Homo sapiens: one gene and its partners. The protein of the gene in region 1 interacts with the protein of each later gene in a biochemical or structural test. Each region holds a gene or a part of one and is shown in the gene's direction. Other genes may lie near its edges. The genes, in order: USP9X, NUAK1, RNF115 and NRP1.

Region 1 (7,916 bases):
TTAGTTGGTCACACAACAAGTGTCTTTGAGCTTATTTTTATTTAATAAGATCAATTTCTAACGTTTTAGTTTCAAAATTTTAGTATTAAAACCAATCTTTGTTTAAAACAGATGTTAAGAATTAGTTATTTGAAATATCTAGCAGTGTGTGTTAATGGATTAGTGTTCTTCTAAGTCTTTTGGGCAGTGAAGGTGAGGGGGGTCTTATCCTGAGATTGAGTTAGTTGATTTTTATTCTGAAAGAACGTATTACTTTTTATGGTAGCCTACATTATGTTTCCCCTCTTGTAGGTATGTTTTCTGAGTCTTGAATTGTTTTTCTTTTTTTTTTCAAAAAGGGAAAAAACCGGATTTTAGTTGTCATTTGGTTCTTTTAGGAGCTGTGTTTTTGAAAGCCATCCTGTGTATTGCTAAGTTCTTGTATTATTTTAACATAGAGTTTAACGTTAATATTTGGGAAAGAGTTAGTGCATTGGACCTCAACCCTGACTGGACATGAGAATCACTTGGCGGGGTTAAAAAACAACCACAACAAAAAAACTGATCCCTGGGTTCCACCCCCAGAGACTGATTAATTGGTCTGATAGGGAGCCTGGGCAAAGGTATATTTTAAAAGCATTGTGGATGATTCTTACATGCATTTGGAGTTGAAAACCACTGGGCTATTGTTTTTATCATGTTGTTAGAACTTTCAAGTGGATAAATAAGAAAATGGATTTTTTTCTCAATTGTTTTCAGTTATTAGCATGATTATCATTTGAGCATTAATTGTCTGTCAGCACTGTTAAGCATTTTCCATTTATTGCCTTACGATGGGTCTGAGGTCTGTCAGGTTCAACCAGTGGTGCTTCGACTACTGTGCTATGTTAGTGAAATGACACTGATTGCTATTTTTAAAAAAGCATTTAGAGCTTTTGGTTTGTTTCTCGTACCAGAGTAAGTTAAGATATAGTTTAGTTTTTAAGACTATCAAGATAGTCTCCAATTTGATAAATATCTTGGTTGCCCAAGGGAGATGTTAAAAGCTATGTGGCAAATAGGTTTCTCCCCTTCCATATATCTTCCAGCGTGCTCAGGGTGATAGTTTAGTTGGTGCGTTTATGACAAAATATTACACAACATTCCTAAAAGGTGTAGAAACTATGCATTTGTCTCCTAGTAATTTATTTAAATGATCCCACAAATTACCGTTTAGTGTCACATGAAATTCTGTTATCTCAGTTTGAGAATTTAGAGTTTTATTTGTCTTAGTCAAAATCAGTTTGATTTTGATTAAGCGTTTTGAATTTTGTGTTGTTTTGGGATTGATGTATAATTGTTTTATGGAACGAATGAAATAACAATAACAGACATTTATTTGGAGTTTCTGTCTCTTAATCCCCTTGGTCCATTGGACCAAATTCTGCATGGTGGGGGCATGGCAGCAGGGAAGCCTATAGGAGTTTAGGATCTATGAGGGTTTTTTTTTTTTTTTTTTTTTTTTTTTTGAGACAGATTCTCACTCTGTCACTGAGGCTGGAGTGGTCACGGTTCACTGCAGCCTCCACCTCTCCTGGGCTCAGGTGATCCTCTCCCCTTAGTCTCCTGAGTAGCCGGGACTACAGGTGCTCCCATGCCTGGCTATTTGTATTTTTTTTCTCTTTTATAGAGATGGGTTTTGCCTTGTTGCCTAAGCTGGTCTTGAACTGCTGGGCTCAAGCTGTCTGCCTACCTGGGCCTCCCGAAGTGTTAGGATTCCCGGCATGAGCGACTGGGCCCGGCCCTATGAGCATTCTTAGTGTGACACAAGATTCCCCAAAGATCTTTTTGTTAAATTATAGAAAATGAGACTATAAGGATCATGAAAAAAGTTGATGTAATAAGGAAAAAGACTTAAAACTTCTAACACTTACCTATATTGGGCATTGAATTTATAATTTATTGTGGATTATAAAGTGATGACCATTGTAATATACTTTTAAAGAATAACTTGTGAAAAAGTATATTGTTAGGATGAGATCGCTTACCTAAAATTTATTCTTCAAAGATACTCATGCTAAATCTTGGTGTCTTCAACGTGTGTATACACACATATCTTATATTTGGCAGCAAATGGATTTTCAATTTTATTCTCAATCACTGCCTAACAAGGATTTTCTACCACCTCTGTGTATCAATCATCTGTGGAGCTTTTTCAAAATATATATTTGCTCTATAGGTGAGTCTGATGTGTAACCAGAGGTTTTTTTTTGCAGTCCCTTTTAGGGAAAGGGGAGAATTGAGACCCTTTGCATGTCATGTGTTCCACCATTAGGCAGCAGTACTCTTGTTTGAGTTTCGTTTTGTTAGTCACACAGTCAAAAATTCCAGACTGAAACACAAACATGTAGTGAAAAGCTCAAACACTAGAAGAGACAGGGATTCCACACTCACATGTATTATATACAGTATATGTGCACATATATATCAAATTTATTGTCACTTAGCACCTTCTCGGTGTTACGGTTCCAGCTCTACTATAAACATTAATATCTGTTAAGACATTTGTTTCCTTTTTAATCCGTTCAACAAATACTTCTGGGGCATCTGCTGTGTGCTAGGCACTGTTCTAGAGATTACTGTTGTCTAGAAGCTAACATATGAAGTGAGGTGGGCTGGACTAGCTGATCTCTAAAGTCTTTAGTGCTAGTTTTCTGGCATTCTTTTATGTACCTCGTAGGAGAGATTGGATTAAGTTGTTATTTAAAAAAACTTTGTTATGGTATATGCCAATTGAATTTTTTTTGTCACTAAATAGAATTTCATTCTGAACTCCAGTTTTCTCCAGTGAGCCCAAATGTCAAGTATAGTAGAAATAGGTTCTTTTGGAATTCTTGGCATACTGGCTTTAGGAATAGCTGTACTTCTGATGCTGTTAATTTTTGACCAGAAATTACATACTCTGGTGTCACCCCTTACTCCTGCCATTCCTTTGCTGTATTGATGCTCTATTATCTCTATACAGTGTGTTTTTCTATTTAATTTACTTTGTTTAGGTGTTTTGATTAATTTTGTCCTCACAATTCTATCTTTAAGGTTAGTGGCTTTCATTCTAAGTCAGTGATAATATCCTTAGCACCTAGAAAGTGCCTGGCATATAGACATTTAGTAACTGTTGGATGAATATAGTTTATCACATTCTTGCTATTTTACTTATTTTTTGCTAAATCTTTTTACTTCTGGGAGTCACTTTTCTTACTAATCTCATTACAATGAGAAATCCTGGAAGAGATCTCAATTCTTTCTAGTCAGACCCTTCATTTTTCAGATGAAAAAAATGGCTCAAAGAGGTGAAAGGTGAAGTAACTTGACCAAGATAGCATGCCATAGACTACCTTCTTTATGAAGCTATATCTATATGTGTCAAATCACATTAATTATTAAATTCTCTGTAGTCACTCATAAAATTAACATTAAACTGTCTCCCTGGTAATGGATAATAAGGTCAGGGATTCTGTCCTTTACCTTTGTATATTACAGAGCACCTAGAATAATACTGTTTATAATAACCATTTGATTACCTGAATGGGAAAATCTGGGGCAGTATTTAACTTGCAGTACCTCCAACCTCTTGTACAGAATTGATTCATCTTCATTTTATGGCACCCTACAGTTTATTCTTATTAATCATGTGAGCTTTGAACACCATGTTAGTCAACCATAATCAAAGGAATTGTTTTCCTTGGGATGAGTTTGAGCTGGTGATCGTGCATATTAGATCCCATCTTCTACAGAGCCTGTGAATTGGGTGGAAAGGAAAAAGGGAGTGGCGAAGCCTCCTGTTAGTATCCTTGATGTCCATTTTATTCCTGCTGACTTTGGTGGCTATTGAGAGTTATAAGTTGAGGCTGTTGGTTACATCTCTCATTTCTAGTCTTTTCTGTTAACTGGTTACTTAGAACTCCTAAGTAAGGCCGCTCATTATTAACTTGGACCCCAGAGAGCATGGAAGTTACCGTATAGTATTGAACCCATTTCTGCCTAACAGTGTTTTCTCTCTGGTCGAGGTGTAGTGTACAAAGTTTTGGTTGCTCTGCTTGGTAACATCTCTGGAGTTCAGAGCACAGGGATCAGTAAACTTTTTCTGTAAAGGGCCACATAGTAAATACTTTGGACTTTGTGGGCTAAGAGGCAAAATTGAGGACATTGGGTAAAATTTTTATTGGTGAAATAAAAAATATAATTAAATACAGTTATGTATAACTTAGGTCTAATGAGAAAAACAATTTGGTGTGTGTGTGTGGAGGGGAGGTAATACAGTATTTTGCTTTATTGGGTAAAGTTCAGTGTTCCCTGTCATCAAATTGATTGCAGACGTTCTGTGTGAAATCCATTCTTACCTTGTGAGCTGTACAAAAACAGGAGGCTGGAATTGGTCTGTTACCATAGTTTGCCAGCCCCTAGTTAAGAGCAGTGATTTTTTTTTTTAAGAGGAGGGGTCTCGCTGTCACTCAGGCTGGATTGTGGTGACGCAATCATAGCTCATTGTAGCCTGGAATTCCTGGGTTCAAGGCATCCTCGCACCTCAGCCTGCCGAGTAAGTAGGACCACAGGCCGACATCACCTCACCTGGTTAATTTTTGTTAGAGAACAGGGGTTTGACTGTGTTTCCCAGGCTGGTCTCAAACTCCTGGCCTCAAGCAATCCTCCTGTTTTGGCCTCCCAGTGTTGCTGGGATTATAGGCCTGAGCCACTGTGCTTGACCTCCTATTTGATACACTATATGTTAACAACTCTGAACCTCCTTTCCTTAAGTCAGGTTCAAACTTCTGTACATTAGCTGATGAAAGGGATTTCTTTTTATTGCAAGGTGGTATTGCCTGAGAATAGTTTGGTTTCAGCAGCTTTGCTGTATTTGTACGGCAGTATCTTGTGTTTATGTGCAAGTTCAGATGTATTTTGCCTTTTTATAAGAATGAGCAGAAAACAAAAAAGTAAATGGCGCGATCTCGGCTCACCACAACCTCCGCCTCCTGGGTTCAAGTGATTCTCCTGCCTCGGCCTCCTGAGTAGCTGGGATTACAGGCATGCGCCACCACACCCAGCTAATTTTGTATTTTTAATAGAGTTGGGGTTTCTCCATGTTGGTCAGGCTGTCTTGAACTCCCGACCTCAGGTGATCCGCCTGCCTCGGCTTCCCAAAGTGCTGGGATTACAGGCATGAGCCATCATGCCTGGCCTACCTGGAGGTCTTAAATATCCTTGAGACAGAGGGAACTGGTTAGGGATATGAATCTTAAACCTTACTGGATTAGGTTGTGCTCATTGGTTAGGTTAGTTGGCTTTGTGCAAATAGTGAATGCAATAATTAGAATGAAATAGGAATTAAGTGAGGCAAATGTATGATGAAGTTTACATTTGAAAGGTGAGGGTATAATTAGAAATAAAAGTTTCTGTACTCTGTGAGTGGGAAAAACCCCTAAAAAGGTGACTGTCGTTTTTGAAATTTTTGACTTCTCTCACATTTTCGGGAATGTGAAAGGAGGATACTGGCTATGTACAGCATTTGTCCAGACTTTTGAAAATATAGAAAATCTCATTTACTCATTTAATTAGTGTGTATATTATCTGTTTACTGTGTCCTTTGTAGATATAATTAATTATCCAGGATTCTTAAGAGTTGACTTGGAGCATGCTGAGCTGAGGCAAGAGGGATTGTGGGGCCAGACTGAGTGTTGGAGGAGGAACCTACTGTAGTGACTACAGGTGTATTTCTTTTTTCTTTTTTTTTGAAATGGAGTTTCACTCTTGTTGCCCAGGCTACAGTACAATGGCGTGATCTCGGCTCACTGCAACCTCCGCCTCCTGGGTTCAAGTGATTCTCCAGCCTCAACCTCCTGAGTAGCTGGGATTACAGGTGGGTGCCACTATACCCGGCTAATTTTGTATTTTTAGTAGAGATGGGGTTTCACCATGTTGGCCAGGCTGGTCTCGAACTCCTGACCTCAGGTGATCCACCTGCCTCATCCTCCCAGAGTGCTGGGATTACAGGTGTGAGCCACCGTGCCTGGTGTGTTTCTTGTCTGATGTCAGTGCATGTCGTTATCTGAGCCATATCAATGTCAGCTGAGGATTGCTTTGTTATCCTCGGTGCATTATGGGAAGGAGAATCATGTCAGTGCTACCTTACTGTGATTGAATTGAATTCATTGATTTAATATAGATTCAGTTAGTACGCCTTATCCATAATATTTGGGATCAGAAGTGTTTCCGATTTTGTAATTTTTTCCCCATATTTTGGAATATTTGGAATATTACTTGCGGGTGAGTGAAAATTCAAAATCCGAAATTTGGGGCCAGGCGCGGTGGCTCACCCCTGTAATCCCAGCACTTTGGGAGGCTGAGGCGGGCAGATCACTTGAGGTCAGGAGTTCGAGACCAGCCTGGCCAACATGGTGAGACCCCCGTCTCTACTAAAAATATGAAAATTAGCCAGGCATGGTGGTGTGCACCTGTAATCCCAGCTACTCAGGAGGCTGAGGCTGGAGAATCCCTTGAACCCAGGAGGTGGAGGTTGCAGTGAGCCCAGATCGCGGTACTGCACTCCGTCTAGCCTGGGTGACAGAGCGAGACTCCGTCTCAAAAAAAAAAAAAAAAGTTCAGATTTTGGAGCATTTTGGATTCCAGATTTTTCAGATAAGGGATGCTCAACCTGTGCCATTTTAGGCACCAGAGGGTATATAAAGATGATTCTCTGCTTTCAAGGCTCTGAAGTATGGTGAACCAGACAGTTATACAGTGCAATTACAGCTGTATTAAGTGGAGGTGTGAAAAGTGTAGTAGGAGAGATGGAGAAATCATTGTTTGGCATTGGGTGAGGTCTTCAAAGATGTCCTATTTTCATGGCCCTATTAATTAGAGCAGGGACTTCCGGTCAGAGGGATCAACTTGAGATCAGGCAGGGTTTTTTAACCCTATTGACAGTTTGGGGCAGATAAGTCTTTGTTGTGAGGTGCTGTCCTACTCAGCCCTGGCTTCTACCCACAAGATGCCAGTGGTATAGCCCCTACCCCACTCATATGTCTTCAGACATTGCCAGTTGTGCCCTGGGGGCAAAATTGAGAACCATTATTTGAAATGGAGCAATGCAAGTGTGAAAGTATAGTGTTTTCAGAGTAAGAACTAGTAGGAGAGTGTGCAAGGAACACTAGAGATACTGGGAGGGGAGGGGTTATGGGAGATGGAACTGAAAGGTAGTTTGAGTGAAGCTAAAATCACAAGGGGTAACCTTGAGTGCCATGTTAGGACATTTGCCTTTTACTGTTAAGGTAATGAGAGATGTACTTTGAAGTTTAAGTGAAAGGAGACATTAGATTTGTGTTTGTTTTTGAAAGATAATTCTGATGGCATTCGTGGCAGATGTGTTGGAGAGTTGAGTGTCGGGGGATTGAGATGGTATTTTAACCGTTCTTCTGAAAGATAAGAAATAATGATTAGGGAATGGAATAAAGGAAGGAGATCAATGGGGTGCTCCCATGGTATGAGGGAGGTGCTGCTAATTTGAGTTTGGCTTTTCTGCCACAGAATGGAGTACTGAGCTAAAAAGCAAAACACCTCTATTGTCTTCCTTTCAACTTTTCCTGCCACCTCCAATTCCCTTTCCTCACTGAGAGCTGCTGTCTGTTGAGGTCTGTTGAAAGGTCATTGAGAGAAGGGAATCTGGGTTACAGAATGACTACTCTCTCAATGTGGTTCCTTAAACAGTGGATTATCAAAGCACAAGTGTCATCTTCCCCCCCGCTCCCCGCAAGGGGTTAGACTGGCATCCAGAGAGCATTAATTGTAGCCTCTCCTTGGTTTGTGTAGATGTTATTTTGCCCTAAAATACTTTGATATACAAACATAGGTGAATAATCTGATGGTTTAATTGTAATTATTTCATTGCTTCCTATTTTGGA
Region 2 (8,468 bases), on another chromosome or scaffold:
CTCGGGATAGGGGTTGGAGCAAAGCCTTAGAGTCGGAGGCTCGCGTTCAAATCCTGACTGCAGTTACTGTTTGATCACAGGCAACTTAGCCTCTTTGAGACTCAGATTTCTCAGTAGCAAAATGGGCAACATAACACCCACCTTGCAGTTTTACGATGATTAGCAGGGCGATATGCATATGTAGGGGTCCTAGGTAGTAAATAAATAATGTAGTAGGTAGTAAATAAATAATGACTGCTACTACTATGTTTTCTGAACAAATGTTTCTTTTTTTTCTTTTATTTTTAACTGACACATCATTGTACATATTTATGGGGCACAGTGTGATATTTCGATACATGCATACAACGTGTAATGATCAAATCAGGGTTATTCACATAGCAAACATATATCATTTTGTTGTGTTGGGAACATTCAAAATCTGCTCTTCTAGCTATCTGAATATATAAAATAAATTATTAATATAGACAATATATTGTATATAATTTATATACAATAAATTATAAACATACAATAAATAAATATATACAATCAATAATGAATATATACAATATAATATTCTACTGTATGTTCTTAAATACACAATATAAATTACTAATTTATTGTATCCTCCCAATTAAATTATTAATTATAGTCACCCTGCAGTGCTATCAAAGATGAGCACTTATTTGTCTTATCTAGTTGTAATTTTGTGCTCGCTAACCAACCTTTGGCTATCCCTGTCCCCTCCCCCAACCTCTAGTAACCACAATTCTACTCTCTACTTCAATGAGATTAACTTTTTTAGCTTCCACATATGAGTGAGAACATGTGGTATTTGTCTTGCTGTGCCTGGCTTATTTCACTCAACATAATGTCCTCCAAGCTCATCTATGCTGCCTGAATGACAGGATTCCTGAACAACGATTTCTTGAGAAAGCGAACATACCTTCTTTCTTTTAAATTGCTTTGAAAATAGAAAGTGCAGTGAAGGACCAGTAATGAGCCTTATGTAAATAAAAGATGTAGGATAGTGTGGATGTCACACTTTCAAGTGCCAATGTTACTACATCTGTCCTGTATCCAAGAACAAAACCAGAAATCAGAGTCTAACCAAGCAGTATGATTAAACTGCTTAAAATTGCCCCAGGCCAGGCACGGTGGCTCATTCCTGTAATCCCAGCACTTTGGGAGGCCTAGGCAGGTGGGTCACCTGTGGTCAGGAGTTTGAGACCAGCCTGACCGACATGGTGAAACCTCGTCTCTATTGAAAATACAAAAAAATTAGCTGGGCGTGGTGGCACATGCCTGTAATTCCAGGTACTTGGGAGGCTGAGGCAGGGGAATTGCTTGAACTAGGGAGGCGGAGGTTGCAGTGAGCCAAGATCGTGCCATTGCACTCCAGCCTGGGTGACAAGAGTGAAATTCCATCGCAAAAAAAAAAAGGCTCCAAATTCTAGTAGGAGCTATGGAAGATGAAAAGTATCGTATTAATATCCACGATTTATTGAGTGGATATAGTCTAGCCCTTAATCCTCATACCAACCCTGTGGGATGTGTTATTGGCGTAATTGCTAATACCACATACATTGTTACTGTCAGGCCTCTGTGCCCAAGCCAAGCCATCGCATCCCCTGTGACTTGCACGTATACGCCCAGATGGCCTGAAGTAACTGAAGAATCAGAAAAGAAGTGAAAATGCCCTGCCCTGCCTTAACTGATGACATTCCACCACAAAAGAAGTGAAAATGGCCGGCCCTTGCCTTAAGTGATGACATTACCTTGTGAAAGTCCTTTTCCTGGCTCTTCCTGGCTCATCCTGGCTCAAAAAGCTCCCCCACTGAGCACCTCACGACCCCCACCCCTGCCCGCCAGAGAACAACCCCCCTTTCTTTGACTGTAATTTTCCTTTACCTACCCAAATCTTATAAAACGGCCCCACCCCTATCTCCCTTTGCTGACTCTCTTTTTGGACTCAGCCCGCCTGCACCCAGGTGATTAAAAGCTTTATTGCTCACACAAAGCCTGTTTGGTGGTCTCTTCACACAGACGCACATGAAAGTTACCATCGCCACTTTGCAGATTAGAGAACTGAGGCATAGAGGGGGAAAACAATTATCCAAGATGATCATAAGAGGTGGAACAGGGATTTGAACCTAGTCACTCTGCCTCTAGATCTGAAGCTCTTAATCAAGGAGCCTGGGCTCTTGTTGGAGAAAATGCTTTATCGATGTGAAAACATTCACACACAATGCCTGATAGCATTGTGCTGAAGTGTGGTTCCAATTATAAACGTGGTAGGAATTCAGTCTGGAGAGGAACTCCCAGTGCCTGGGCATGACTGTGTGCTAGGCATTGTACTGGGTGTTTTTCATCCTTCCCATTTAAGGAGACGGAGCATGGCATATATGAAAGGAGAAGGGGGAGCTTTGGAACTGGACAGGTAGGGTTTAAATCCTGGTCCTGCCATTTACAAACTGTGTAACCTCTGGGAAATTACTTAACCTTTCTGATACGGTTTCTTCAATTGAAAATAGGGATTGTAAACAGCTACTTTACAGAGGAGGGTTTACTGTCATAAAACAGTACCAGCCTATGGTAGATGATGCTGTTGATTCAATAGATACTGATGAAGTCCCACATATCTGGGAGTAACACTATCAGCCAGAATAAGCCAGGTTATGCTGCTTTAACAAATCCCACTGACTTAACATAAATAAAGTTTAATATTTGCTGACACTACTTTTCCAATGCAGATTGGCTGGGATTTTCTGCCATCTTTACACAGAGACTCAGGCTGGCTTGGGGAGGCTCCAACTTTGTACCACCATGATTGTCAAGATAGGAAAAAGAAGACATGGGGATTTGCTCACTGGCTCCTAAAGGTTCCAAGTGAAAGCAACACAATCACTTCTGCTCTCATTCCATTGGCCTAAGCAAGTCCGATGGTCTCATCTAACTTCAAGAGGATGGGGTAGTGGATTTCTACCACATCGCAGGGGAGGGGAAGAAGTAGAAAATATTTTAAAATACTACTGTAGACACAATGTGTTTATCTCTACAATAGATCTGCTAAATCCATATCTTAAGAGAAAACCGAAGCTCTGAGAGGTTATGTCATTTGACCAAGGCCACACAGCCAATCCTCTGGGAAGCCAGGACTCAACCTGCATGCCACTCATCCTGACTGTGGGATCTATAGGCACAACGTCCACAAACTGTATAGAAGCAGAACAGTTTCAGGATGGGGGTGGGTGGCAGGGAGGCCCTGCAAATGCGGTGGACAGAATAGGAATTGAATAGGCATGATGCGCCTTTGTGTCTGTGTTCTGTCATTGCTCCTGGGGAAGGGAAGAAGGGGCAGGGAAGTTTGTGTGAAATATCAGTAGAAGGAAAGTTTGGACAGGTAAGAATATCACGCGTCAGAGTACAGCAGAGACACGTGTGGAGGATGAGGGCAGTGTTTCAGGCCATTACTCTGGCAGCAGTGAGGAGGCTCCCGGGGAGGGTTGGGGAGAGCGGGCTGTTGCTGGAGTCCGGGGTAAGGTGACCAGGGGTAGACAGGAATGAAGGCGGCGGGAATGTAGAGGAAGGGCTGCACCTGAGAGCTGCAGAGGAGGCCCCAGTGAGGTCCACTGGTGGAAAAGAACCGCCATGCGATCTGCAGAACACCAGACCTTCTTCAGCCTTCACTCTTCCCACCCTAGTCTGGTACATTGCACCACTTGTTAAAAAAAAAAATTTCCCTAAGACCTCTTTTTCTCTAGCCTTCTTCCTTATTTTTCATGGTCTCTTCTTAGAACGGCGGCAGCCACGCCGCGGTGGGAGGCCCTTCCTGCCTGACCCTTACCGTGCGGGGTACCGTTCCTGTCACCATCGCCAGGATCTGGCCCTTTCAGTGAAAGGAAATCTCCCAAGGCCTAAGGAGGCAAGAGGCCTGCAAATCGCCTCCTGCTCAGCAAACGGGTTGCTCAGCAGGCCCGGGGTCCTGGTCCACCCCAGGTCCCTGGTTTGCCCACCTCCGATGGCGGCCTTCGCTGGCAGGGTGGGCGCCTCTGGGGAGCCAGCTCCGTCCCGGCGCCTTTAGAGCCCCATCTCTTCCACGTCCCTGGCCTTCCTCCCCTTCCAGGCGGCTGTCCCCGCCGGGGTCCAGATGGTGTCGGAGGGCCGGCGGTTCGACGGCGGGCCCGGGGTTCAGCCTCCCGGCCTCCCTCCGTCCCTGACTCTCCTTTCTTCGGAGAGGGCGCGGGGGCCGGGGCCAAAGCGCCGCTCTTGGGGTTCTCCTGGACTCGGAGTTGCCCCAGGCGGGCGCAGCTCTGCCCCGCGGGGTGCCAGCCTCGGGCGGGCAAGGTCCGTGAGTCACCGCCTGTAACCGAACACCAGGCCTCCCTGCCCCCTCCCCCAGCTCCGGCCGCCAGGCTGCGGCGACACCTACAAGAAAATGAAGGGGCGCCCAGGCCCGCGGCGGCCCCGGCCGTATCGCGAGCAGGTCCCGGCGGCCCCCGGCTCGCGGCGCTCTTTCTTCCCCGGCCCCGGGGCTCGGCCAGCCGCAACCGCCGCCCCGGCGCCAGCAGGAATCCAGGCCGAGCGACCGGCCCCGGAGCCCGAGGCGGCGGAGGGCCCGCGGTAGCTGCGACTGGCGAGCCCGAGAGCGCCCGGGGAGGGGGCGCCCGGCTTGGAATTTCCCGGTCCCTTCCGGCCCAGCGAGGACAAAGCACTCCTGGCCGCCGCCGCCGCCGCCGCCGTGGCCTACGCCGCGCCGCACAAAGGGCGAGTCGCGACACGCTCCCATCCCCCTCCCAGCTCACGGCGGCCCCGGCCCCGGGTGGCTGCAGGGAGGTGGGGGAAGCCCTGGCTGCACCGCCCCTCGCTCCCCCTCCCCTGGGGCCGCGCGAGCGCCGCCCCCGCCCCGTCTGCGCGTCCTCCCGGGGAGGGGTTGGGGGGCGCGGCGCCCCACATAACACTCCCCCTCCTGCGCTGCGAGCCACCCTCTCCCCTCCCTCCTGCAAACACCACCGCCTCCCCTGCCACCGCCGCCACCTCGCCCGACGCTCCACAGCTCGCCGCGGCCGGGGGGCGGTGCGCGGACCGTGCGCGCCGCGGGCGCCAGATGTGCAGTCCCCGCCGCCGCCAGTGACCGAGCCGCAGTCCGAGCGGTATCGGGCCGCCTCCCTGATGCTGCGGGGGCGACCTTGAGCGTACAGCGGCTTCCCTCGGTGGGGACCCCGACATCCCAGCGCTGTGCCCGGTCTTGCCCTCTGTAGCCCGGCTCGCCCCGCGCTTGGACATGGAAGGGGCCGCCGCGCCTGTGGCGGGGGACCGCCCCGACTTGGGGCTGGGGGCGCCGGGCTCTCCCCGAGAGGCGGTGGCGGGGGCGACTGCAGCCCTGGAGCCCAGGAAGCCGCACGGGGTGAAGCGGCATCACCACAAGCACAACTTGAAGCACCGCTACGAGCTGCAGGAGACCCTGGGCAAAGGCACCTACGGCAAAGTCAAGCGGGCCACCGAGAGGTTTTCTGGCCGAGTGGTGAGTGGGGCAATCCTGGAGGGTGCGGGGGGCGCTGGGTGGACGCGGCCGGGGACTGAGGGCGTGCGAGGCGGGGGTCTGTGCGCCCTGGGGCTCTCTTGACAGAGAGGGGGCTCATTGGGAAGCCCCGAGACAGACTCCTCACTCTTTCTCCAGCACCCCGTGACTCAGGCGTGTCTCTGTCCTGAAACACTTGTTACATCCTGTCTGCACATATTTTATTTTATTTTTTGGTTTGTTTTTAAAAATTTAATCCTAGCAGCAAAGGAATGTTTTAGATTTGCAAACACTTTGCAGCGTTGGGACGGCCGGGGTCTCTCTCCCTCGCAGGCACTCATTTAGACCATGCCCCGAAACGTCTTATTTCCACAACTCTCCAAAGAACCACATTCCCAGCTAGGAGCTAGCCCCTCAAGTCCGGTGTTTTGTAGGTGTCCCTACCCCCTTCCACCCATCTGCCCGCAGCTCCTTGCTCTGCATCCTCCCACTCAGACTCTGCATCGCCCTGATACTGCTGTGACTGCAAGGGAGGGCGACTCTTGCCTGTTTTTGAGACAAGGTTAGGGAGCAAAAATAAAGACTACTGCAAGCCTGAGGATTCTAACAGTTTGCATCATGGCTTTGGGAGGACCGAAATGTCCAGGGCATGGGTAGCTACAGAGATAGCTGTGCTTAGTTGCAGCAGGCTCAGTTGTGTTTCAGCTCCTGGTTGCAGGGCTACCAAACCGCTGAAGGGGTCTGGCCCCGCTGCTCTTGTGACAGCTGACACCCTGCCAGGGTCCTGGCACCATTTGCACAGCTCCAAGGAGTGCTTTGAGTGCCTTGGGGTCTGTCTGCCTTGTCCCAGCCTTGGTTTGTTGTTATTTTCACTTCTGCAGAACAGGCCCTTGAAATCCACACTGCTTGTGGCTAGAGAGTTGGGTTCAAAGTGACTGACTGTTGCAGAAAGATTTTGTGTGGTGTGTGGCAGAAAATTAACATGGTTCTTTGATTTGAAGCAGATCAGATGTATTCTAATCGATTTAGGGCCAAAGTCAGAAACTGATTATGGGACTCCTTGTGTGCACTTTTGGGGGTGTTTTGGAGGCTCAGGTTTGCTTATAAACAACAAATGACTGCAGGGAAAAAGGAAAATGAGCTGTCAAATAAAATAGCAGCTTAGTATTGACATGTTTCTTTTGCATTTCGGCAGGAACAGTTCTGTGAAAAAAACATGGGGGTGCCAGTCAGCAAAGTTCAGTCCCCAAATTCTCAAATATCTGGATACCCGGATAACGCCCTCCCAACCCATTTCTCAGATTTGATGTTTGGGTCTATATAACTTCGTCCCATAACGTTATTTTAAAAAAAAATCTGTTATCAATTAATTGGAAATTTGAGATGGCGTACATTTCTTTTTAAAGCTGGCTCTGTAATAAATTCTACAGCAAGCAAGTAGTTGAGAATTCACTCTGGGCAGGTGCCATTTTCGTAGGATGAAATTGTTAAAGGGGAGGGTTGTAAGGGTGGCCTCTGATGAAGGCAATTTCAGGTTTGTGGAAGAAGAGGCTGGGAAACGTGCACTTCATTCATGCTTTTCTTCTGAGGTGATATTCCCCAGGCTGGATGTTGAATAAGCAAAAACTAAGCTTAGATCCCTGCTCATGTTGTCTTAATAGCTGCTGAAGAATCGCACTGGGAAGGTGGGAAGCAGAATAATGAAAAACAGACGCAGTTCGAGCTGCAGGTTGAGAATGTGAGGCTATGAGGGGTTGTTGAAGTGGTAAGGGTGTGTCTAGGGTCTGTGAAGGGACCCCAAAGTCTAAATGCTGGGGCACTACCTCAGACCTTTCTAACGAACGAACCCTTGTCTTATGGCAGACGCCTTTCTGAGCGTCAGTGGGACTTCCTGTCAGGCGTTCTTGAGCTGTCTGATCCACAGACTAGGTTAGAGTGAAAGGGATTTGCATCAGTAGGCAGGAGTCCGCCTTTCTCTTTTGGGGGATGTCTTTCTCTGTATTTGCAGAAACTGAACATTCCGTCAGGATTTAGTCAAGCGGCCACGAGGGGGCGCCCTGAGAACGAGAGAGGCTTCTTTACCAGCCGCAAATCTGAAGTCCCGCTGTGTTATTGTTCAGCCCTAGTTCATTTTCCCATTGTGCTATTAATTTCAGCTAAATCTCTTGTTTTACCCCAAAATTATGTAAAGATTTTAAATCTGGCAGCAGACCCACGCCCAGAAACTGACAGTCTCTAAAATGCTTCGTTTATTCATGGGGCTGCTTTCTCCTTGATAGCTGAGCTTACAGAATGTTAGCCAGATCCCTGGGTAAAAACCTTGCATAAAACAGATGGGAAAACTGAGGTTTGGGGAAGGAAAGTCCTCCTTGGCCCCCCGTCCTCCCCCTGCTGAGCACACTGCTCACAGATGGTGTTAAGAACTTTAGTGAGAAACAGGAATTGTCAAGTGGAAAATTTCCTGTGACTGGCTGAACAGAAAATAACACCAAACAAACAAAAAATTGGTCAACGAGTTGTTCTTGCCCATACAGTGCCTGGTGACTCAGAACCTGTTAAGAGCAGTAAGACATTTTCATCTAAAATATGAACTTGGAGTTTTCTTCTGGTACCAGCGATGTGCTAAACATTCACAACATGCTTTGAAGGTGCAGTTGAGGAGAACTGAAAGGGCACTATCTTAATTTAGCCTTTTGATCTTTGGGTAGAATTTTGAAGTGATGTTTTATTTTCATTTGCACCAGTGCCTTTTACAGCATCTCTCAAGAGGAGCAGTGGTTCTAACGTGTTTTACTAATGTGAGTGGCCCAAGACAGGTGCCGAGTATGGGGTTGTATGAAATGCTGTGAAATCAACATCCCTGTTGAAAGCAGGGGTTCTTCTCAGAGAGGAGAGAAGTTTCTAAAAAATGAGGATGTGATGGTTTTTAATTGCATACCTGGAAGGACCTTCTGAATAAAACAAA
Region 3 (7,916 bases), on another chromosome or scaffold:
CACAATGGAAAATCATTTTCTGTTCACTGATTGTTAAAAACTTTTTTTAAAAAAAGTCCTGTGACATCAAGTGCTTGCCAGGATGTGGCACAGTAGAAACTCTTAAACACTTGGTGGGTGTTTAAATTGCTACAACCAGTTTGGAAAACAATTTGTCATTACCCAGTAAAGTTGAAGATGTATAGATCATGTAATAGTTTTACAGACCAAAAATATAGAAACTCTGGTACCTCTGCAGAAGAAGACATACAGTAATATTCACAGTGGCCATTTGTAATATAAAAAACTGTAAACAATCCAGGTGTTTATTGATTGATTTTTCTAACATGTGACTTATTTCTGGTCTTTACTAGCTTTGGGGCCATTTGGATCACACGATGTTTTTTCAAGATTTTAGACCCTTTCTAAGTAGCAGTCCACTGGACCAAGATAATAGAGCCAATGAAAGGGGTCACCAGACTCACACTGACTTCTGGGGAGCAAGACCTCCACGGTTGCCATTGGGTCGGAGATACAGATCTCGAGGAAGTTCTCGTCCTGACAGATCTCCAGCTATTGAAGGGTGAGTTGTTTTATTTTAAGTTCTTTTTAAGGTAGTTTCAATGAAGGACAAATTGGTATAATCTAATCTTTATAAGGGTCTCATACTTATTACCTTTGTGGACAAGATGGACATATGTAGAAAGGATGAAAGTGAAGCTAAATTGAATGTTAGTACTCACCCGATGATAAACCAGAGAGTGAGAAATGCTATGTCTCTGATTAACATTTTTATTAATGGCTCAGATTAATTTATAGATGATATGTGTCTCAGTCCATTTTGTGCAGCTATAGCAGAATACCTGAGACTGGGTGATTTATAAAGAACAGAGATTCATTTCTTATATTTCTGGAGGCTGGGAAGTCCAAGGTTGAGGGATCCACATCTGGCGAGGGCCTTCTTGCTGTGTCATTCCATGTTGGAAGGCAGAAGGGCAAGAGAGCATGCATGAGCAAGAAAGAAAGGTGCCACACTCATCCTTTTATTAGGAACTCACTCAACAATAACTAATCCACTTCCAGGATAAAGGCATTTAATCCACTCACAGGAGATTCATCTCTTAAAGTCTCCACCTTTCAACACTGCTCCACTGGGGATTAAGTTTCCAACACATGAATTTTTGAGGAGGGCACATTCAAACTATAGCAGTATATTTATCAAAATTTCAAAAGGGTATCAAATATATTAGGCATTAGGATTAAATATTTCAACAGATTGGAACAGTGGACTTAACATGAAATTTAATCAAGTATCTGCTTTTTGTGAAGAAAGGAAAAAAATTTAATAGGATAAATATGAAGTCTTGTGACTGTAAAAACATTCATGTAATAAATGTTTGTTGAGTGTCTTTTGTATGGGACACTGTACTAGACACTAGGAACACAATGATGAGTCAAATAGATGGTTTTGCTCATGGATCTCATTTAGTTGGAATAATAAACGTTAATTTTAAGTGTTTACCATATGCAGAGGACTGTGCTTCATGCTTTATCTGCTTTATGTTGTTTAATTTGTGTGAAGTAATAGGTGCTATTGCTGTTTTCATTTTATAAAATAATTAACTGAGTCTCAGAAATAAAGTAACAGCCGTTGGTGGATCTAAGACTTGAATCTAGGGCTATATGAATCTAGTGCGACATTGTCTTATATGGTAGCTGCTAGCCACATGTAGCTATATGTTTACATTTAAGTTAACCAAAAGTTAATAAAACTCAAAATTCAAAGTACCTCAATCCCAAATAGCTATATTTTGAGTGCTCATTGGCCACATGTAGCTAATACTTATCATATTTGACAGAACATATTATAGAAAATTTCCATTATCTTAGTTCTATTGAACAGTGCTGTTCTAGAGCCTACACTCCCCCTTTCCCCCAACACACACCTTCTAGGCTTTATTAACATTTTACTATACTTGCGTTATTACATATCTATCCATTAGTGTTTCTTTGTTAAACTTGTTTGCTTTTGGTTCCTAATATATGCACTATCATACTAAGAAAGTTTAATTTTATTCATAATTTATTAGGGGCTTTTAATTAAGAATGACTAATGATTTTGTCACATGCCCTTTGCAGTCCTATCAAAATGACCTTAGAGTTTTTCTCCCTTAAACAGTTAATGCATTTTATTAACAAGTAGGTTTTCTAATGTTTTCTAGTGTTTTTATTCAAGCTGCTTTGTCAAGGAGCACTAAAACCTCTTTTTTAGGGGTCGGGGTTGGGGAAACAGGGTCTCACTTTGTTTCCCAGGCTAGAATGCAGTAGCAAGATCATGTTTCACTACAACCTCAAACTCGGTGGGCTCAAGCAATCCTCCCACTTCAGCCTATGAACTAGGTAGGACTACAAGCATGTGCCACCACGCCTGGCTAATTTTTCAATTTTTGGTAGAGACTAGGTTGCCCAGGCTGGAGTCTCTTAACACATTATTGGAGTTGATTTGTTCCTTATCTTTTTTTTTTTTTTTTTTAAGGATTTTTACATTTATTCAAAAGAGGATGAGTCTCTTTATCAAGTTTTGGTGTCAGGATTATATTAGTTTCATAAAAGGAACTGGGAAAACTTGCTGTATTCTTATGCTTGGAAATAGTTTACATAACACAGGAATTACCTATTATTTAAAGGTTTAATGCAAGTTACCTGTAATTCCATCTGGACCTGGTATCTTTTTGGGAACTAGATCTATTACAGTCTTTTCAGTTACTTCTGTGGTTGATAGTATAGGGTAGTGTTTTATTTATCTCTGTATTCTCAGCTTCTAGTGCAGTATCGGTTTTATAGTGGCTACTAAACATGTTTGTTTTGAATAAGTGGATAATTGTAATTATGTCTCTAAAAAGTATAAAAAACATATGAATTAATAGTAATAATAGCTAAGAGTATGTGCCAGAAACTAGTCTAAATGCTTTACAGGTATTCATTTGTTTAATCCTCACTATAACCATGTGAAGAAGGTATTGTGAATATCTCCATTTTACTGGAGAAACTGAGGCACAGAGAGTTTAGGTAAATTGTCTAAGAGTATAAAGGCAGTTAAATATTGGAGCCAGGATAGTGCAATAATCAAAGTATTTGTATTTGGTGAGATTTTTAACTGTTTACTTATACTAAAAAATTTTAGTATAACTATTTAGTATAAGTCAAAAATTTAAAATTAAGTAGCCTTCTCACTTATTTTTTAACCAAAGATTTAAGCATTTCCCTAATTTTCTCAGAAACTTTCCTTCCAAGGCACCAGTATATCAGTAAATAGAACTTGAAAGTTTTTAATTCAGTTTCTTTTCTCTTTTCTTTCATAGAAGTATAAATAAACACAGTATATCTTTGGGGCCTATTACTATACCCAGCTAGCAGGCCTGCCTAGATTGTTCCATATGGTTGTTACTTTACAGTAATTGTCATTATGATGTCACTGTATGTTTTGAAAGTACAATTTCATGTTTTATACATTTTTAAAAATTGATTGAATTTTAGCATGGCTTCTTCCTGATAACAGTTTTGTCCTCTTGCTTTGAGAAGGAGCATATGGGCATTCCACTTATGGTTTCCATGGGCTGCATCTCAGATTCCTGTTCATTCTACGGGTTTCACTGTAGACAGAGTACTTTGTATTTAATGGCCGGGTGCGGTGGCTCACACCTGTAATCAGCACTTTGGGAGGCCGAGGCAGGTGGATCACTTGAGGTCAGGAGTTCCAGATCAGCCTGGCCAACATGATGAAATCCCATCTCTACTAAAAATCCAAAAATTAACCAGGCATGGTGGCGGTTGCCTGTTATCGCAGCTACTCAGGAAGCTGAGGCAGGAGAATCACTTGAACCTGGGAGGTGGAGGTTGCAGTGAGCCGAGATTGCGCCACTGTACTCCAGCCTGGGCGACAGAGCAAGACCTCATTTCAAGAAAAAGAGTACTTTGGCTGGCGCCAACAGGGTCCAGGTCTGTGCCTGCCATTGGAGAGGATGCCACAGCCACAGGGGTGGGCGCTGGCCTGGAGGCCTCCAAGGGGCATCTCCTGTGAGCCCAGGGGATGGGCAGGATCTGAGCGGAGAAGAGTGAAAGTGGAGGAGTGAGGCCAGAACAAAGGCTTTGCCGTGAAAGAGGTGGTTTCCCGCCTAGGCTCTGACCTTCACTCACTGTGTGGCCCAGGCCAAGGGCAAGCGTCTGACCTCGCTGGGCCTTTGTTTCTCAGGGGTAAGATGAAACAATGGCTCCCTCTCCCTCTCCCTCTCCCTCTCCCCACGGTCTCCCTCTCCCTCTCTTGCCATGGTCTCTCTCTGTCTCTGATGCCGAGCCGAAGCTGGACTGTGCTGCTGCCATCTCGGCTCACTGCAACCTCCCTGCCTGATTCTCCTGCCTCAGCCTGCCGAGTGCCTGCGATTGCGGGCGCGCGCCGCCACGCCTGACTGGTTTTCGTATTTTTATGGTGGAGACGGGGTTTCGCTGTGTTGGCCGGGCTGGTCTCCAGCTGCTAACCGCGAGTGATCCGCCAGCCTCGGCCTCCCGAGGTGCCGGGATGGCAGACGGAGTTGCGTTCACTCAGTGCTCAATGGTGCCCAGGCTGGAGTGCAGTGGCGTGATCTCGGCTCGCTACAACCTCCACCTCCCAGCTGCCTGCCTTGGCCCCCCAAAGTGCCGAGATTGCAGCCTCTGCCCGGCCACCACCCCTTCTGGGAAGTGAGGAGCGTCTCTGCCTGGCCGCCCATCGTCTGGGATGTGAGGAGCCTCTCTGCCTGGCTGCCCAGTCTGGAAAGTGAGGAGCGTCTCTGCCCGGCCGCCATCCCATCTAGGAAGTGAGGAGCGTCTCTGCCCGGCCGCCCATCATCTGAGATGTGGGGAGCGCCTCTGCCCTGCCACCCCGTCTGGGATGTGAGGAGCGTCTCTGCCCGGCCGCCCCGTCTGAGAAGTGAGGAGACCCTCTGCCTGGCAACTGCCCTGTCTGAGAAGTGAGAAGCTCCTCCGCCGGGCAGCCACACCGTCTGAGAAGTGAGGAGCCCCTCCGCCCGGCAGCCACCCCGTCTGGGAAGTGAGGAGCGTCTCCGCCCGGCAGCCACCCCGTCCGGGAGGTGAGGAGCCCCTCCGCCCGGCAGCCGCCCCGTCTGAGAAGTGAGGAGCCCCTCTGCCGGGCCAGCCGCCCCGTCCGGGAAGGAGGTGGGGGGGTCAGCCCCCTGCCCTGCCAGCCGCCCCGTCCGGGAGGTGAGGGGCGCCTCTGCCCGGCCACCCCTACTGGGAAGTGAGGAGCCCCTCTGCCCGGCCAGCCACCCCGACCGGGAGGGAGGTGGGGGGGTCAGGTCAGCCCCCCGCCCGGCCAGCCGCCCCGTCCGGGAGGTGAGGGGCGCCTCTGCCTGGCCGCCCCTACTGGGAAGTGAGGAGCCCCTCTGCCCGGACAGCCGCCCCGTCCGGGAGGGAGGTGGGGGGGTCAGCCCCCCCCCCCCCCCCCCCCCGGCCAGCCGCCCTGTCCGGGAGGTGAGGGGCGCCTCTGCCCGGCCGCCCCTACTGGGAAGTGAGGAGCCCCTCTGCCCGGACAGCCGCCCCGTCCGGGAGGGAGGTGGGGGGGTCAGCCCCCCGCCCGGCCAGCCGCCCCATCCGGGAGGGAGGTGGGGGGGTCAGCCCCCCGCCCGGCCAGCCGCCCCGTCCGGGAGGTGAGGGGCGCCTCTGCCCGGCCGCCCCTACTGGGAAGTGAGGAGCCCCTCTGCCCGGCCACCACCCCGTCTGGGAGGTGTACTCAACAGCTCATTGGGAACAGGCCATGATGACAATGGCGGTTTTGTGGAATAGAAAGCGGGGAAAGGTGAGGAAAAGATTGAGAAATCAGATGGTTGCCGTGTCTGTGTAGAAAGAGGTAGACATGGGAGACTTTTCATTTTGTTCTGTACTAAGAAAAATTCTTCTGCCTTAGGATCCTGTTGATCTGTGACCTTACCCCCAACCCTGTGCTCTCTGAAACATGTGCTGTGTCCACTCAGGGTTAAATGGATTAAGGGCGGTGCAAGATGTGCTTTGTTAAACAGATGCTTGAAGGCAGCATGCTTGTTAAGAGTCATCGCCACTCCCTAATTTCAAGTACCCAGGGACACAAACACTGCGGAAGGCCGCAGGGTCCTCTGCCTAGGAAAACCAGAGACCTTTGTTCACTTATCTGCTGACCTTCCCTCCACTATTGTCCTATGACCCTGCCAAATCTCCCTCTGCGAGAAACACCCAAGAATGATCAATTAAAAAAAAAAAAAAGAAAAAGAGTACTTTGTATTTGTATTTAAGAAATCAGATGTCAGAGATTAGCCTTTGTGGGATTATTAGTGTGTTCCTCACACCAACTTAATAAGTTTCCCTGAAATGAGGTCCATTTTCTTTGACTTTTTCATTGGCATGAGTAAAACTTTTTTACTAACACAGAGACAGGGAACTCTCACATTGTTCATTCATTCTGCAAATATTTATTCAGTGTCCCTAAAGTATGTGCTTTATCCTCTAATCTGCAGCTTTTGAATGATAGTTAATTAGGTCTTGAATAGACTAGCTCATCTTATCTGACTTTAAGTGCATCTGACCTGTGCCAGCAGATTAATTTATAAATTTATAACTGAGGGTATTCTGTTTCAGTGACTATAAAACTCATTTGTTTGTTAGCATACTCTTGTCTTTGAATTTCTCAAGTATCAAGAAATCAAAAGCAATCAGATGGTTGTTTAGTACATATAGAATCAGCAAGGAAATTGCATGATCTTTAAGAGAAATTCCATCCAGATTGTGATAAATGCTAAGGAATTACTCATATTTCACTTCAAATAATTTTTTTTTAATTTTTTTTTTTTTTATTGATCATTCTTGGGTGTTTCTCGCAGAGGGGGATTTGGCAGGGTCATAGGACAATAGTGGAGGGAAGGTCAGCAGATAAGCAAGTGAACAAAGGTCTCTGGTTTTCCTAGGCAGAGGGCCCTGCGGCCTTCCACAGTGTTTGTGTCCCTGGGTACTTGAGATTAGGGAGTGGTGATGACTCTTAACAAGCATGCTGCCTTCAAGCATCTGTTTAACAAAGCACATCTTGCACCGCCCTTAATCCATTTAACCCTGAGTGGACACAGCACATGTTTCAGAGAGCACAGGGTTGGGGGTAAGGTCATAGATCAACAGCATCCCAAGGCAGAAGAATTTTTCTTAGTACAGAACAAAATGAAGTCTCCCATGTCTACTTCTTTCTACACAGACACAACAACAATCCGATTTCTCTATCCCTTCCCCACCTTTCCCCCTTCTCTGTTCCACAAAACCGCCATCGTCATCATGGCCCGTTCTCAATGAGCTGTTGGGTACACCTCCTAGACGGGGTGGTGGCCGGGCAGAGGGGCTCATCACTTCCCAGAAGGGGCGGCCGGGCAGAGGCACCCCCCACCTCCCGGACGGGGCGGCTGGCCGGGCGGAGGCACCCCCCATCTCCCTCCCGGATGGGGCGGCTGGCTGGGCGGGGGCTGGCCCCCACCTCCCTCCTGGATGGGGCAGCTGGCCGGGCGGGGGCTGACCCCCCACCTCCCTCCCGGACCGAGTGGCTGCTGGGCAGAGACGCTCCTCACTTCCCAGACGGGGCGGCTGCCGGGTGGAGGGGCTCCTCACTTCCCAGACGGGGCGGCTGCCGGGCGGAGGGGATCCTCACTTCTCAGACGGGGCGGCTGCCGGGCGGAGGGGCTCCTCACTTCTCAGACGGGGCGGCTGCCGGGCGGAGGGGCTCCTCACCTCCCAGACGGGGTCGCGGCCGGGCAGAGGCGCTCCTCACATCCCAGACAGGGCGGTGGGGCCGAGGCGCTCCCCACATCTCAGACGATGGGCGGCCGGCAGAGACGCTCCTCACTTCCTAGATGGGATGGCGGCCGGGCAGAGAC
Region 4 (7,916 bases), on another chromosome or scaffold:
ATAAATGTGGCAGCATTTCAGGCTGAGGTGCTCCAGTATGAAATCCATCATAAAATGTGACAATGAGAATCTATGCTGAACAATATAGGCAGCCCAGAGACTGGTTTACTTGGTTTATTTGGCTTCACTTGAGCATTTTTGAAATGAAGGCTCAAAACTACTTAGCTCACCTTTCCCAGAATGTGAGAATGTGGGTTACCATATGTGATACCCAGACCTGTGTGGTGGGTTATTTTTCACCCAACATTTAGGTAATTAGAATTAATGCCATGTGGCTATTTACTTTTCCTTCTGCCCCGTTGCTTTGATCCGATCTCCAAGCTTGAACAACTTTACTTGGAGAAGTAAAGCAGAATTATTTCTGCTTCACCAAATATACTTTGTTCTCTGTTGATTTGGATCTCAAGAGCAGAGATAACTCAAAATCACTTAGATTTATGGGCAGATAAAACAACAACAACAAAAGGTTTGGCTTTAAGCCAATCAAAGACAATCCCCACTGATCAATGACATAGACCAGGCTTATCATCAAAAAACAACACAAGGGGTCGAACAGCATCTTTCAGTCACTTTCCACTTAGAACTTGCTACTTAATGTGATTACACTTCTTGGGGGATAATTAAGTCTAGCAGAAGCTCCCAGGGGACCATGTTAACATCAATTGAGGGGATTTAATGTTTTTAATGCTAGAAGACCTTTTCCTTAGGAAGAAACTTCGGGGCTGGGGGGAAGAGTCCTCTCAGATCTCAGTTGGCTTTCTGCCTGAGTCAACCTTCCTGAGATCAAAGAGTGTTTTTTCCTGGAGTGTTGCACTCAGAGCCACACGAAGGACTTACGGGGACCTTTTAGAGTTCCCCTTAAAAAGTTAAGGAATGTTTAATAACCAGTAATTTACATATAAAGCTAGATTACCTAACAGGTTGTCAGGAAAGATCTGCTAAAATCTTACTTTCATTGCAGATAAATGTGGCGATACTATAAAAATTGAAAGCCCCGGGTACCTTACATCTCCTGGTTATCCTCATTCTTATCACCCAAGTGAAAAATGCGAATGGCTGATTCAGGCTCCGGACCCATACCAGAGAATTATGATCAACTTCAACCCTCACTTCGATTTGGAGGACAGAGACTGCAAGTAAGTGGGAATGTTTTTGAACAGGGCACCACAGCACCATCTAGTGGTCACGCCTGTCTACGGGGGGGAAGTCGGTGTGTACAATGTAGATTATAAATGGATCCAGGAGGGATTCCAATCTCAGCCAGATTATATGTCAATGGTATGGAAATTGAAGTACGTTAAGTGATTTCTGAGTTCCCCAAACCAGGAAGATTATAGTTAAATGTGTAAGCTCTTATACTCCTTCCTGTTAGCACTTTTGGTTTGGGAACTCTTGTTAAGAAATGTATACAGTATGTATGTTTCTTTTTTCTTTCTTTTTTTTTTTTTCCTGGAGAGGGGAAGAACTAGAAACTCAAAAATCTCACTTGTATTTTTACGAAATACAGTGGATCACTAATATACATCGCATCCACAGATAGTGTGATTGGAGATCTCACTATTTGAGATATATTGAACTGTGGCACATCTTATGATTTAAGAACTGCATTCATCTTACTAAGTAAGTTTGACATGGAAAAAGCAAATTGAATAAAATAAGGCCTACAGGATAAGCCAGATGAGGGGTTTTGTAAATGGTGGATTACTGATTAAAATACTTTTATGGAAAATGCTAGAAAATAATTGTTAAGACACGATGAATACAATGGGAACTCAAATACACATCAGTGTTTCATCCACCTGCTTAGTCTTGCTATCTCTTTCTATTGTTAAGTTTCTAAACATCAACTTATGCCCAATTTCGTTATTATGAAGACATTCTCACTATAGAGACAGTCGAAATTATATTTCCTCACTTTATGTGAAAGAACTGGTATGTGGATATTGCTTTCCACAGTATCGAAAGTATGTTTTTACCTTGCACGTAGCAGTCCACTCAGATACATGTTTGCTCGTCTCTCTTAACACCCAACAGACCCCCTGTCTCTGTCTTGTCCACATTATCCCATTCTGACCCACTGAAAGTGGTGTAGTCTCCAGAGACTTGAACCTGAATATCCATCTTTTAAGTTTGTACATATATAAATAGTTTTATCAAAGAAAAATAATCGATTTAAATCTCAATTCTAAAGTGTTTCTCAGGGACTGAGAGGTTTTCACAAGTTTTAAAGTGGGTCAGTTTGGTGTAACCGTATATGATATCTACAGACTACTGCTACCGCTGGACCTAAATATTATTTTGCAAGTATATTCATTGTTAAAGACAGTCTATTTGAACACACATTTCTTTTGGGAAAGAACAGAGTAATATCAAAATCTTCCTACCTGTAGGAAGTGCTCGACAACCTGTTGAGTTGGTTTAGTAAACTAGCTTTTCATGGTCAGAGAGATGAGGTCATTTGGTTCATTCAACATTTTAGTATCTAGAGAATTAGCATAAATCCACAGGCTGATGACCAGTTTCCAAATAATCAGTGTATACTACAGTGCAACAAAATTACACCAATTCCAATTTATCTTTGCTTTGTGATTCAGAAGTGCCTCAGGGCATTATATTGACTTTTTAATTGTGTATGGAAGTTACCATTAATAGTGTTCCAGTGACTGCTTGGAAACAAAGAGTTCATTGTATTGATTTATTTATTTTTGCTAATATTCTTTATGGTGGTTTTTACAGTGTCAATCACCTAGACAATCTGGAGACTTGTTTTCTTTTATATTTGATTTACTTCATTAGTAGTAGCAGTAGTTATTAGTATTTGCTTTTTGACCATGTTTAAACTGCTATAGGAGAAACTCTGGTAAAACATACTCAAGTAATAACATTATTCCAAAAAATAAAGTGCTGTTAGAATTCAATAAACTGACGTTTACTAATTTCTAATCTGGAAATCATGACCATCAATACGTGTAATATAATACTTAAAGAATTCAGAATAATCACTAGTTATTGGCAGTGATGTGGTGGTAAATGTTTAACAGCTGGCTCTTTGGAGAAGACGAGTCAAGTCCTCATTTGTATGTAGCACATGCCAATTTCTGTGGTGTAAATACTCTCATCATAGCCAATTTCAAACTAACCATGTGATGTCACTGTGCCCAGACTAGCAAAGAAATGTGCACAGTTGGTTCTTATGAGCTGGTGGGCGCCAGATCCAGCACACAACTGGAGTAGAAATTTAAGAAGGGAAGCCAGTTGAATCACTTAATATATGTAAAGGGCTTACAATTCTATTTGCACATACATTTCTTCTGGGAAAGAACAGAGTAATATAAAAATCTTCCTACCTGTAGAAAGCGCTCAACAACCTGTTGAGTTGGTGTAGTAAACTAGCTTTTCATGGTCAGGGAAATAAGGTCATCTGGTTCATTCAACATTTTGGTGCCTAGAGAATTAGCATAAATCCATAGGCTGATGATCAGTTTCCAAATAATCAGCGTATACTAATTATTACAACAGCATCTCACAGTATTACAATGGTGTCTAGCTCACAGTAAACCTTAAATAATGATTTGTCATATCATGGTGTCAGGTGGGGTATAATGGGATTAAAGGAGCACCTTTTTGGTTAGTTTTCTTTTTAAAAAGTACATTAAAAGATGATTGTAATTCACAGAAAATGACAGTTTTAGTGATATCAGCAAAGTATTTGAGAAACTGACATGGCCAAGAAGATGTTACATAACAATCTTAATAATGGTGACTTTGTTTGTTTTTTTAATGCTACAGAGTAAGGTGATTTCTTAATTGTCCCAACTGAGGCTTTGCTCTCTGTGAAGGTGTCATCTCCTGGCCAAAGCTGAAAGGCTGTTATATTTAGCCTGATGAAGTCAATGGAGATTAGATCCATGGAAAATATCTTCCTGCTGTGTTTTGAAGTGTTGCATTGTGAGCTTTTTATCAATGAGAAACTCCAGAAAGATATAGGAAGACCAGCATAAGGCATTCCTTTCACTATCTTTCTAAGCTGATTCATATGAATGACTAGTGCTCAGTGTTGAAGGGTGCATTTGAGATTCTACAAATGTGGCAAAATACTTACCTCCTTTTGTGAAGGCTTTGAGAAGAATCCACAGATTTAAATTTTACAGGGGATTGGAATGCCCTAGGGGGAAAAAAAAAACCTGGGAACACCAGAAATTATTTGAAGAACAAATTCATAGACTTCAAAGTTTAGATTAGATTCCTACAAACATAGTTTTGTTATTAGGGTTTTTTTGTACTTTATATCAGGCTATTTACAAAAATGGATTGGAGGTGGCACAAAACTAGGCACAGTTAAAACCACATTCTGAAAGCTGGTGAGCTTTTAGTTATCACTCTTGTTAAGAACAAACTATTCATCTTATTTAAGACATTTAATATTTTTCCTTGTTCCAGCTTCATTATATGTCTGTTGGCAGTAAAAAACATTTGCTATGCTGATGTCATAGGGTTACTAGTAGGATCAAGTAGTAGATAGGAAAGCCTTTTTAAAAGGTAAAAGTGACCCTCAAAATAAGTTATCATTATTATGATATCTTTAACAAGTTGGTGATTTTTAGAACATTTGGAAATATGAAACTAAACATACGTCAAAACTAAATCTATTGACCCAGTAATGAGATGATTTGCACATGATACACCCTGCATTTTCTCTTGAAATGGTCAGTATTTGTATAGTCAACTTCCACCCTGAGAAAGCTTAAGAAATCGATGCCTTAGCACATTTGCTTATTGTGAAACATCTTTGAAACCCAAGTAAACAGTTTTCTTTTGTAGAGTATAGGGATGGTTAAGTCATTAGACCAGCTACATAGTCCTGGTAGAAAAAAAAAAATTTTTTATTTAGATTTTTATTGTTTTATGTATAATTAGGTAAAAAACATCATTTCATAATCTTAACAATACAGTATACAGTCACAACTTCTCATGTGAATAGCACCAAGACTGACCCAGTTCATGAGTTAATTCTGGATCATACTTTGCAAAATGGTGAAGTTTTTGCAGTGGCTGTCAAAGGTGGATACTTCGTTAGGAAAATTAAATGTGTAAGTTGTGCCTCCATAGTTTTAACATGCAACATTCTGTGTCTATGCCAGCACTGAATGAGGTTTCATTACAAATAAGCATCAGAACCATAATACTATAACCCCTTAATTCTTTTATTGAACAAGATGTGGTGTAAATCAGTCGATCAACAGACCAGTGGAGCGTCTGTCTGCAGGGCTAACACAGAACTAGGATTTTTTCCCAGCTATATATATGCATGATTTTATTATTAGATTGAGAGGATTCTAGAGAATGCTCTGACCGAAGAAGGTGTTGAGGGAGAGGAAGGAATGTTGATTTCTTTTTTGCCAGCAAAATCCTGCACACTTGTGAAGTGTCAAAGCATAATTAAAAATAGAAAAGAAATAAAGAAGTGACCAGTGGAGAGTTTTCGGAAACACATGTTCATTGCACATTGAAAATGGTTTTCAGTATGTACATCGAACTAGTTAGATCTTACTCCACTAAAGTTTTCTTCAGTGGTAAGGCAGACATCTTGAATCTCATAAAAGTTTATATCTGTATAATAAACAAGAATGTCATTGATATGGTAGTTAGAATTTATGAAACTTCTCCAGTTTCCCAGCAATGCACACAATCAGCATGATAATTTATAATGGTTTGTGACAAATACTGCTGAGCAAAGAGGTGTATGGTTACATTCAGATCAGATGTCACCATCCGGGGAGCAATAAAAATTTCACAGACATTGGGTTAAAAACATTAAGGAAATGAATGCAAAGCTCTAACAAAAGTCTAAAAAGGTGGTAGCATTGGGGGACTCAAACCCAGTAGTGCTTTTCCTACTGACAAGAAGAAAATCTTACTTACCGACTTCAGTGTCTGATTTGACAGTGCTGTTTCATATCATGGCACAGTTGCTTTTTTCAACTATGATTTAGATTTGTAATCTCTCCTCTGTGTAACCAACAATAGGCATGTTTTTCCTAACTCAGTGCGTTCAAAGGAAGATCGCATACTTGTAACTTCGTAAGAAGTTTAATCATAGTGAAATTATAAGCAAATAGAGATGATATTCGTTTCAGAATTTTGTTGGGATAATTCAGATATTGTTCCTTTAATGCTAGTTTTTAAATTACCTAAATTATTAAAAACTTTGAAACAGTGCTAATGTCTTTTATTTTCAGAGAATATAAACTTATGGAATGAAAAATAATCTGCCCTTGGTTTCTCAAATCTGATTATTCCCGCACATTTACATTTATTCCTGCACATTTACACTTATTGGCATTTTTTGGAGTGTAAGTTCCATTTTCTGTTTTCCTGAGTAATATGAGTAATATTTTCTGTTTTAATCTTTCTTTATTATTACTAGCATGGATTTTTTAGGATTAATTTGGATTTTTAAAAAATGTTACATTAAAATACTATTTATCTTAATCACTGAGTTTTTGGCTTTTTGTATCCAAGGGAAGTACCTCACTCTAGTCTTGTATTTTAGAGCATCACTTAGACTAAAACAAAATCCTTGTTTTATGGAAAACTGAGTTTTTTAAGCCAAACTACATCTCTATTTTCCATATGAAATAGAGAAGAATATATACCTTTAGTAAAGTATAATATATATTTAGAAAAATACACAACCCAAGTATAAGATTTGATAAAATTTTGCAAGGTGGATACATCCACAAAACCAATCTAGAGGCCAACATTTCCAGCTTCCTAGAAGCCCTCTGATGTCAGTTTTAGTCACCAACCTTTGCCCTCAAGGGCAACTGCTGTCCTAACTTCTGTGACTTCATTTTTATACATTTCAAAATCAGGTAAAACTCAACTAGAGTCTTAGAAGTCTGTATGTACAGGCCAGGCACGGTGGCTCACTCGCAAACATTGGGAGCCAGAGGCAGGCATCACTTGAAGTCAGGAGTTCGACTGAAACCAGCCTGGCCAACATGGTGAAACCCCGTCTCTACTAAAAATACAAAAATTAGCCAGGCAAGGTGGTGCACGCCTGTAGTCCCAGCTACTCGGGAGGCTGAGGCAAGAGAATGGCTTGAACCTGGGAAGCGGAGGTTGCAGTGAGCCAAGATCCGCACCATTGCACTCCAGCCTGGGCAACAGGAGCAAAACTCCGTCTCAAAAAAAAGAAGCCTGTGGGTACTATCCTTGAACATAGACAGTGAAAGTCTTTGGAGTGGATATAGAAAAAATAGGTACTATTTCTAATCAAAAAGCAGAATCCTACTGATGCATTTTCTAATTTTTTTCAGTGGCTACTGATGGAAATATCTTGTCTTTGTTTCAAACTTTTCAATCTGGAGCCTGCTTTATTATGCAGATTTTATGTGCAAGCAAATTCAGAAACATTCTCCTTTGCCGTATTTTTCTTCATCTTTTTATTTCTGGTTTTGATCTCTGGTGACTTCTCAATGTGAGAGGCACCACCACCAAGCTCAATTCAATTAAAAAACTATTGGTGGAAGAATGAACCCTCCTCAGAAGAACTGCTGGCCAAAGTTGTTACTACCACTTGCAGCATCCTTGGTTATTACTCAGGCAGATAATTATCTGCTTTCTTCCTTTTGATTTTTTTCCCCATTAGCACCAAATTTAATTTGAACAGAGCCTCGTGTGTTTAATAAAATTAATTTTCTTTATTATCCCTTAGTATAAGCAATCACATTTGATCATAATGAATTTTGAGTATTACGAGGTTGTTTTGTGTTAGGCATTTCTGTAATTTAAAGGAAGCAACTTTTGCGAGCTAAAGGAGAAGGTTGGTTGAAATCTTATCAGACTGAATCAACATGTGCATGGCATTTCCAACGAGATTTCACTTTAGGGAGCAGGCACTTAACTGATCC

Evidence for each region.
Region 2: the proteins of USP9X (region 1) and NUAK1 form a complex in vitro, tested with the Homo sapiens proteins (one study listed by BioGRID).
Region 3: the proteins of USP9X (region 1) and RNF115 form a complex in vitro, tested with the Homo sapiens proteins (one study listed by BioGRID).
Region 4: of the proteins of USP9X (region 1) and NRP1, one has a biochemical effect on the other in vitro, tested with the Homo sapiens proteins (one study listed by BioGRID).

What each region holds. Positions count from the first base shown.
Region 1 is NC_000023.11:41,088,445-41,096,360, forward strand, and holds part of USP9X (ubiquitin carboxyl-terminal hydrolase 9X), read left to right. Parts: intron 1-7,916.
Region 2 is NC_000012.12:106,135,452-106,143,919, reverse strand, and holds the start of NUAK1 (NUAK family SNF1-like kinase 1), read left to right. Parts: upstream 1-4,965; 5' UTR 4,966-5,266; coding exon 5,267-5,506; intron 5,507-8,468. UniProt on the Homo sapiens protein: Serine/threonine-protein kinase involved in various processes such as cell adhesion, regulation of cell ploidy and senescence, cell proliferation and tumor progression. Phosphorylates ATM, CASP6, LATS1, PPP1R12A and p53/TP53.
Region 3 is NC_000001.11:145,764,357-145,772,272, reverse strand, and holds part of RNF115 (E3 ubiquitin-protein ligase RNF115), read left to right. Parts: intron 1-353; coding exon 354-562; intron 563-7,916. UniProt on the Homo sapiens protein: E3 ubiquitin-protein ligase that catalyzes the 'Lys-48'- and/or 'Lys-63'-linked polyubiquitination of various substrates and thereby plays a role in a number of signaling pathways including autophagy, innate immunity, cell proliferation and cell death.
Region 4 is NC_000010.11:33,323,928-33,331,843, reverse strand, and holds part of NRP1 (neuropilin-1 isoform a precursor), read left to right. Parts: intron 1-961; coding exon 962-1,136; intron 1,137-7,916. UniProt on the Homo sapiens protein: Cell-surface receptor involved in the development of the cardiovascular system, in angiogenesis, in the formation of certain neuronal circuits and in organogenesis outside the nervous system. Mediates the chemorepulsant activity of semaphorins.